Linked DNA regions of Homo sapiens. The protein of the gene in region 2 purifies or fractionates together with the protein of the main gene of each other region. This does not show direct contact. Each region holds a gene or a part of one and is shown on either strand. Other genes may lie near its edges.

What was found.
Region 1: the proteins of AGPS (region 2) and CSRP2 fractionate together in Homo sapiens (co-fractionation; one large-scale study listed by BioGRID). This does not show direct contact.

The regions. Positions count from the first base shown.
Region 1 is NC_000012.12:76,868,893-76,872,548, forward strand, and holds part of CSRP2 (cysteine and glycine-rich protein 2), read right to left. Parts: intron 960-3,656; exon of another isoform or gene 807-959; intron 1-806.
Region 2 is NC_000002.12:177,430,621-177,434,276, reverse strand, and holds part of AGPS (alkyldihydroxyacetonephosphate synthase, peroxisomal precursor), read right to left. Parts: intron 1-3,656. UniProt on the Homo sapiens protein: Catalyzes the exchange of the acyl chain in acyl-dihydroxyacetonephosphate (acyl-DHAP) for a long chain fatty alcohol, yielding the first ether linked intermediate, i.e. alkyl-dihydroxyacetonephosphate (alkyl-DHAP), in the pathway of ether lipid biosynthesis.

The DNA of each region.
Region 1 (3,656 bases), on a different chromosome or scaffold from region 2:
ACTGCACGCCAGCCTGGGCGACAGAGCGAGACTCCGCCTCAAAAGAAAAAAAAAAAAAAAAAAGAAAAGCACTGGTTTTAGATGGTACTGACTCTACCCCTATCTTAGTCTGTTTCGTGTTGCTATAACAGTATACCAGAGACTAGGTAATTTATAAAGAACAGACTGAGAATATAAATATTTGAAGGCTGGGAAGTCCAAGATCAAGGTATGGCAGGTTTAGTGTCTGCTAAGGGCCCCATCTCTGCTGCAAAATGGTGCCTCCAATGCAGCATCCTCTGGAGGCCAGGAACACTGTACCTTACATGGCAGAAGAGCAGAGGAGGGTGAACCCGCTCCCACCAGGCCTTTTTATGGTGGTACTAATCCATTCAAGAGAGTGGATCCCTCATGACCTAAACATCTCCCATTAGGCCCAACTCCCAACGTTGTTGCATTGGGAATTAAGTTTTAACATGATTCTCAGAGGGGACAAAAACACTCAAACCATAGCAACCCCCAACTCCAAGGCTGGGCATGTGACTCAGTCACGGCCAATCAACTGTGCCTTATCTTATCCTGCATGCCTCAGTTATGAGCCAATAAATTCCCTTCTTAAGTCATTTGGAATTGGAGCTCCTGTTCCTTAAAACAAACAACACACACACACACACACACACACACACACACACACACACACACACACACCCCTGACTGGTATGGCTTGTTATCACTAAAATGTAAGTCTGAATTTGCAAAAAGCCAACTTCTCTTAACCAGACAGGAACAAAGTCATTCCAAGGGTCCACAAATGTTACCAGGCTTACCGTGAAGGCATCCATATAGGATCAGTATCTTGCGACAATAGGACATGTTTACAAGCTTTCCTTTTGTAGCTGCATAAATCTTTTATTCTCCTCCCTGGAGACAGGCACTCCATTGTTGAAATCCAGAGTGAAACATAAGCCTGGCGGTAAAACCTAAGACATAAAGCCTTGGCTCCAACAGCCTGCACTGACCCGTGTTTGTAGTACAGTTAGAGAAACTGACCTTGCCCCTTGCCTCCAAAGCTACCTGTATTCTGAATGCTCATGGATGCAACAGACATCTGCTGGAAGTTCCCTCATGATTCCTGCAGAACCAAAGGCCAAATCCAGGCCTCCAGGTAATGACACTACAATTACTTATATTGGATCCCAAGTTATCAACTGGTTCTTAAAATACTTTGTTGTTGTCGAGGCATTTCTATCATTGAAACATTTCTCATATTAGAAAGTGAACTGTTAATACCAACTTGGTATTTTTCATTTTCACACATATTTACTTTGGAGCAATCACCAGTAAGGAGCCAGATTGCTATCACGACTGAGGCTAGACTAGGCTGTCTTTGAATAACACTTAAAAATACATTAAAAGGAAAACCCAACTAATAACCTTGTTATTCTCTTCCATACCATTGAAGAACAGCCTGGATTTTTAAGAAAGAAGGAATATCTTCCCTTTCTTTATGTAATTCAGGGTTTCTTTAAACTTACTTATTCTAAGTTAACTGCACCAGCCAAACGTAAATGTGTCAGCTTTTCAGGAAATACCTATCAAAGTTCCACAACATTCAACTTACTGTGCAATAAGTTTCTGGTCCCTTGATGGTGGGGACCACATCTCTGTATTCTCCACACCATCTATCAGAGTATTTGCATATATCAAAATATTGCAGTTCTATCCAGCTTAAGGGCTTTCCTAAGGATTTCTGAATAACCTTTTCTGTGATAGAGGGAAATGATGTAACAAAAGAACATTGTCAGAAAGCTTCAGTTGGATTTACATTTTTTTTTTTTTAAGATGGTTAGGGAGCCAGGTGTGGTAGCTCATGCCTGTAATCCCAACACTTTGGAATTTGGAATTTAGGGAGACGCTATATTACCTATATTTAAAACAAATTTAAAAAGAAATTAGCCAGGCATGGTGGCACACACCTCTGGTCCCAGCTACTTGGGAGGCTGAAGTGGGAGGATTGCTTGTGCTGGGAATGTCAAGGCTACAGTGAGCTATGATTGCACCACTGCACTCCAGCCTGGGCAACAGAGCAAGATGACCCTGTCTCAAAAAAAAAAAAAAAAAAAAAAAAAGTGGATGGTGATAGTTGAATATTCCTTATATTGTTCTCTACTTTGTATGTCTGAACTATTTCATAATGGAAGGAGGGAGAGGAAGTTGATTGACTGGTTTAAACACACCTGGATTAACTCCACCGTTATAATAGCTGCGCAACCTTGGGCTTCATTTTCTCAAGCTAAAAATGGGGATAGGTAGCTCTCTCTACCCACAGAAATATTGTGAAGGCAAGATAAGGTAAGCAAATGCCTTGGCAGGAATCCAGTAGCTGTCAGCTTGAAGACAGAGGGGACATCTCACTCTATCCAGCCTGCTATCAGTACTCTAGTAGGAAAACCCACCAACCAGCACCTAGAACATAGCTGCAGAGCAACAAACAAGGTAAGGACAAAACTGAGCTGATTGGTCACTATAAACCTTCTTTTTTGGGGACATTAAAATGCACTCCAAAGTAAAGCAACAGTTCCACATATGGTGGTGACTGTCTAAGAAACAAAGTTCAAGCCGGATGCGGTGGCTCACGCCTGTAATCCCAGCACTTTGGGAGGCCAAGGCGGGCAGATCACGAGGTCAGGAGATCAAGACCATCCTGGCTAACACGGTGAAACCCCGTCTCTACTAAAAATACTTAGCCGGGCGCGGTGGCAGGTGCCTGTAGTCCCAGCTACTCGGGAGGCTGAGGCAGGAGAATGGCGTGAACCCAGGAGGTGGAGCTTGCAGTGAGCCGAGATAGTGCCACTGCAGTCCCGCCTGGGTGAAACTGCAAGACTCCGACTCAAAAAAAAAAAAAAAAGAAAAGAAACGAAGTTCAAATTTGCACTTTTAGGCTGAACCTCTAATGGACATTTCCTGAATTTGGCTGGAAGAAGTATGATGATCTTCCATTTCTGTCACTCTTGGCATTGCTGTGCATAAAAAAAAAAAAAAGCAAGTCTTCATTTTTCTTACAAGCCTTTGGCCGTACTACTCCACTACAGCTGCCATTAATCACAGCAAACTGGATTTGCACTAAGCAATCTGGGCTGCATGCCTTTCCCAAATCCTAGGCATTAATTTACAGAATGGTAAAAGCAAAAATAAAATCCCACTTTACATGTGATAAAATAGGGCAAATTCTGTTTCTCAGTCTTGTTCCTTGTTTTTCAGTGTCTGAAAGAGTTCCAGCACTAGGATTTATCCACTGTATTACATGTTACAACGTGATTTATATCTGAACACCTATGTGCAATTTCTCCTTGCTACCTCTTCTTAGCCTAAGATGCCACCAAAATTCATAAGACTCACCCATGCGGAAAAACTGATATAGTCTAAGTCTGAGTCGTCTTATGGTACAGTTAGCTCACTCTCTAGATAACTGTGGTAGGAGTTATTACGAAATTATTTTAGGCAGATAGAGAGGAAAAGGGGTCCTTGGGAAGTTTTCATTTTTTAAAGCATCTCTGGAAAAGTTTCTTGTAAAGCCCTGGCTCTTAGAGCCAGGCCAGCAACCTTTGATATGCAAATGCAGGCCATGTGGGCCATGCAAATGCCCCACCTGTGCCTGGTGACAGGGCAGCCTCCAC
Region 2 (3,656 bases):
TTTAAAGCTTAAATTCTGCTTCCAGTGATGGTCAAGCAGCTACTATCAAACCAACACTTTCACATGTAACTATAAACTCTGAACGAAAACAAAACAAACAAAACCCAGCTATCTAAAGGCAGTATAGACAGACCAAAAGCAGTCAAAAATAGGGGAGAAGGGTGTGCTACACTTGAAAAAAGGAAAAAATACTACATAAGTTCATAAGTTTCCAGTTTGGTTTTGTTTTTTCCATAAGTTTTAGCCTTATGGCAGGCCCCAGCTGGTGCCTCAAAAGGTAATAAAAATGCTGAAAATTTACAGTCTTCCTGGCTTAAAGAACCAGAGCACAGTGTTTGGGGTGAATGCTGCATCTGGAAAGCATACCGAGAAATCACAGAAAGAAGCAAGTAAGAGAGGAACCAATCTATCAGCTCTCTCCAAATGTCTGGCTGACTCTGAATAGCATGTATAGAATACATACTGGAATCTTCTAGGCAGCCCAGTTAAGCTTAAAAAAAAACTGGACAGGCAATTCAGCTGCTCACCACAGGGAGACAGAATTTAGAGTTTCAGATCAGTCAAGTTAATTGCTTGATTTAAGAAAAAAAAAGTCTTTTAAAGGTCTCTTCAGAGGAATATAACAGAATCCACAGCTCCTACATCATATCATGTACAATGTCCAAAACACACTCCAATATTACTAGACAAGAACAAACTGGAAAGTATGACTCATATTCAAGAAAAAGGACAATTAATGATGACTGACCCCAAAATGACCCAAGATACTGGAAGTAGCACACAAGGGTTTTAAAGCAGCTATTGTTGCTACGCCAATGGACAAAATGGAAAATGTACTCCTGGTGAATATTAGAAAAAAAATCTTAGCAGAGAAATAAAAAACTATAAAAAAGAACACAACAGAAATTCTATAATTGAATCTGAGACATTCCATTGGCATCTCATTACAATTTTAATTTGAATTTTACTGAGTACTTATGAAATTGAGCATCTATTCCTATAACTATTGTCCATTTGGATATCCTCCATTTTGAAAGCCAGTTCAAGTCTTTTGCTCATTTTCCTCCTGGGTTATTGTTTTCTCAATTACATGTAAGAAATCTTTATATATTTATAAAATGAAAGATACACATATTAGACATTTTCTCTTACTCTGTGATTTATCCTTTCACTCTCTTAAAGGAGTCCTGTAGTTTGGACACCAAACCCTCCAGACCTCATGTTGAAATTTGATCCCCTAGTGGGAGGTGGTTGGGTCATGGACGTATATCTTTATGAATAGATTAATGCCCTGGGGGAAGGGAGAGAAGTGTGAGTGAGTTGTTAGTTCCCTCAAGAGCTGGTTGTTTAAAAAGAGCCTGGCACCTCCCTACCATCTCTCTCTTGCTTTCAGTTTCACCATGTGATCTCAGCACATACCAGCTCCCCTTCCCCTTCTGCAGGACTGGAAGCAGCTTGAGGTCCTCACCAGAAGCAGACCCTGATGCCATGTTTCTTGCACAGCCTACAGAACCATGAGCCAAATAAACCTCTATTCTTTATTAATTACCCAGTCTCAGGTATTCCCATAAAATAAAAAGGTGACCACCTTCAAGATACTTGAAACTACAGATACAGAGTTAGTGTTACTATCATGTATAAAATTTAAAACTACCTTCTATCACTAAAATAAAGTCTTTATATCTCTATATCTGAATGCACAATATTTATTTAACACTCAGAAGACTGTACTTAGCATTGCAGAATACATGGAATTGGTATTATGACTCCTGTTTTTAAGAAACTTGCAACCTAGCTTAGTCAAAGCTACAGCAACATTTAATTTGTGAGATGAACACATGGGCAGAGAACATGAAACTTTAACCAGAGATGTGATAAAGGGAAAGTTAAGCACTTATACCAATTGTTGAATCACAGTGACTACTGAATGGATCTTCTTCTTTTCCATGACTGAAGATTAGTTTGAGAATATTAAATGGCTTTTGTTGTAAAATATAAGGTGAGATCAATTTATCACTTTCCCATAGGGCTGAAATAGACTATATTATAGAAGATACAGAACCAGAACAAGTTTTCAAGGCCAATGAAATCATTCTACATGGAAAGAAAAAATTCTGTGGACAAAAATTATCCAAGAGGGAAGTGCACATCAGGACTGACAATGACTAAAAGCAAAGTGACTCTCACTCTGGGGCAGCACATAAGAAGCAGCAAAAATATTAGTATATGTTGTGGGAAGTCAGGGACCCCGAACAGAGGGACCGGCTGGAGCCATGGCAGAGGAACACAAATTGTGAAGATTTCATGGTCATTTATCAGTTCCCAAAATTAATACTCTTATAATTTCTTATGCCTGCCTTTAATCTCTTAATCCTGTTATCTTCATAAGCTGAGAATGTAGGTCACCTCAGGACCACTATTGTACAAATTGACTGTAAAACATGTGTGTTTGAACAATATGAAATCAGAGCACCTTGAAAACGAACAGAATAACAGCAATTTTAAGGAACAAGGGAACACAACCAAAGGTCTGACTGCCTGCGGGGTCAGGCACAATAGAGCCATATTTTTCTTCTTGCAGAGAGCCTATAAAAGGACGTGAAAGCAGGAGAGATATCGCTGAATTATTTTCCCAGCAAGGAATATTAATAATTAATACCCTGGGGAGGGAATGCATTCCTGGGGGGACGTCTATAAACAGCTGCTCTGGAAGTGTCTGTCTCATGCAGTTGAGATAAGGACTGAAATTACGCCCTGTTCTCCTGCATTACCCTCTGGCTTATTAGGGTGGGGAAAAGATCCCGCTCTGGTAAATTTGAGGTCAGACCGGTTCTCTGCTCTCGAACCCTGTTTTCTGTTGTTTAAGATGTTTATCAAGACAATACGTGCACAGCCGAACACAGACCCTCATCAGTCATTCTAATTTTGCCCTTTGCCTTGTGATCTTTACTTTGCCCTTTGCCTTGTGATCTTTATTGCCCTTTGAAGCATGTGATCTTTGTGACCTACTCCCTGTTTGTACACCCCCTCCCCTTTTGAAATCCCTAATAAAAACTTGCTGGTTTTGTAGCTCAGGGGGCATTATGGACCTACCGATAATGTGGTATCACCCCCGGCGGCCCAGCTGTAAAATTCCTCTCTTTGTACTCTTTCTGTTTATTTCTCAGACCAGCCGACACTTAGGGAAAATAGAACCTATGTTGAAATACTGGGGGTGGGTTCCCCTGATAAGTATATACAATCATCTAGCCTCAGGGTGAGTTCCACAATTGCTAAGCAATTTAACAGCCTTTTTATAATCAGATAAAGCTTCAATTAAAAATTATGCCATCAAAAAGACAAAGTCTAACAAACTCAAATTTTTCATTTATATACTAACTTGTGATTTCTAAGTACCAAACTAATGTATAATACCCATAAAGTCAAAAATAGTGACATTTTTCAAAAATTTTAGTTTATAGAAATCTATAGGGACTGAGATGGCTGATTAGAAGCAGCTGTGATCCGCAGCTGTCATGGAGAAGAATGAAAATAGCAACTGAATTCAGCACCTTCAACTAAAATATCCACGTTCTCACATCAGGACTGACTAGGCAGACAGCTGGACCCATGGAGAACAAAGAAAAGGAGGGTGGGGTGATGATCCAAGTGGGAGA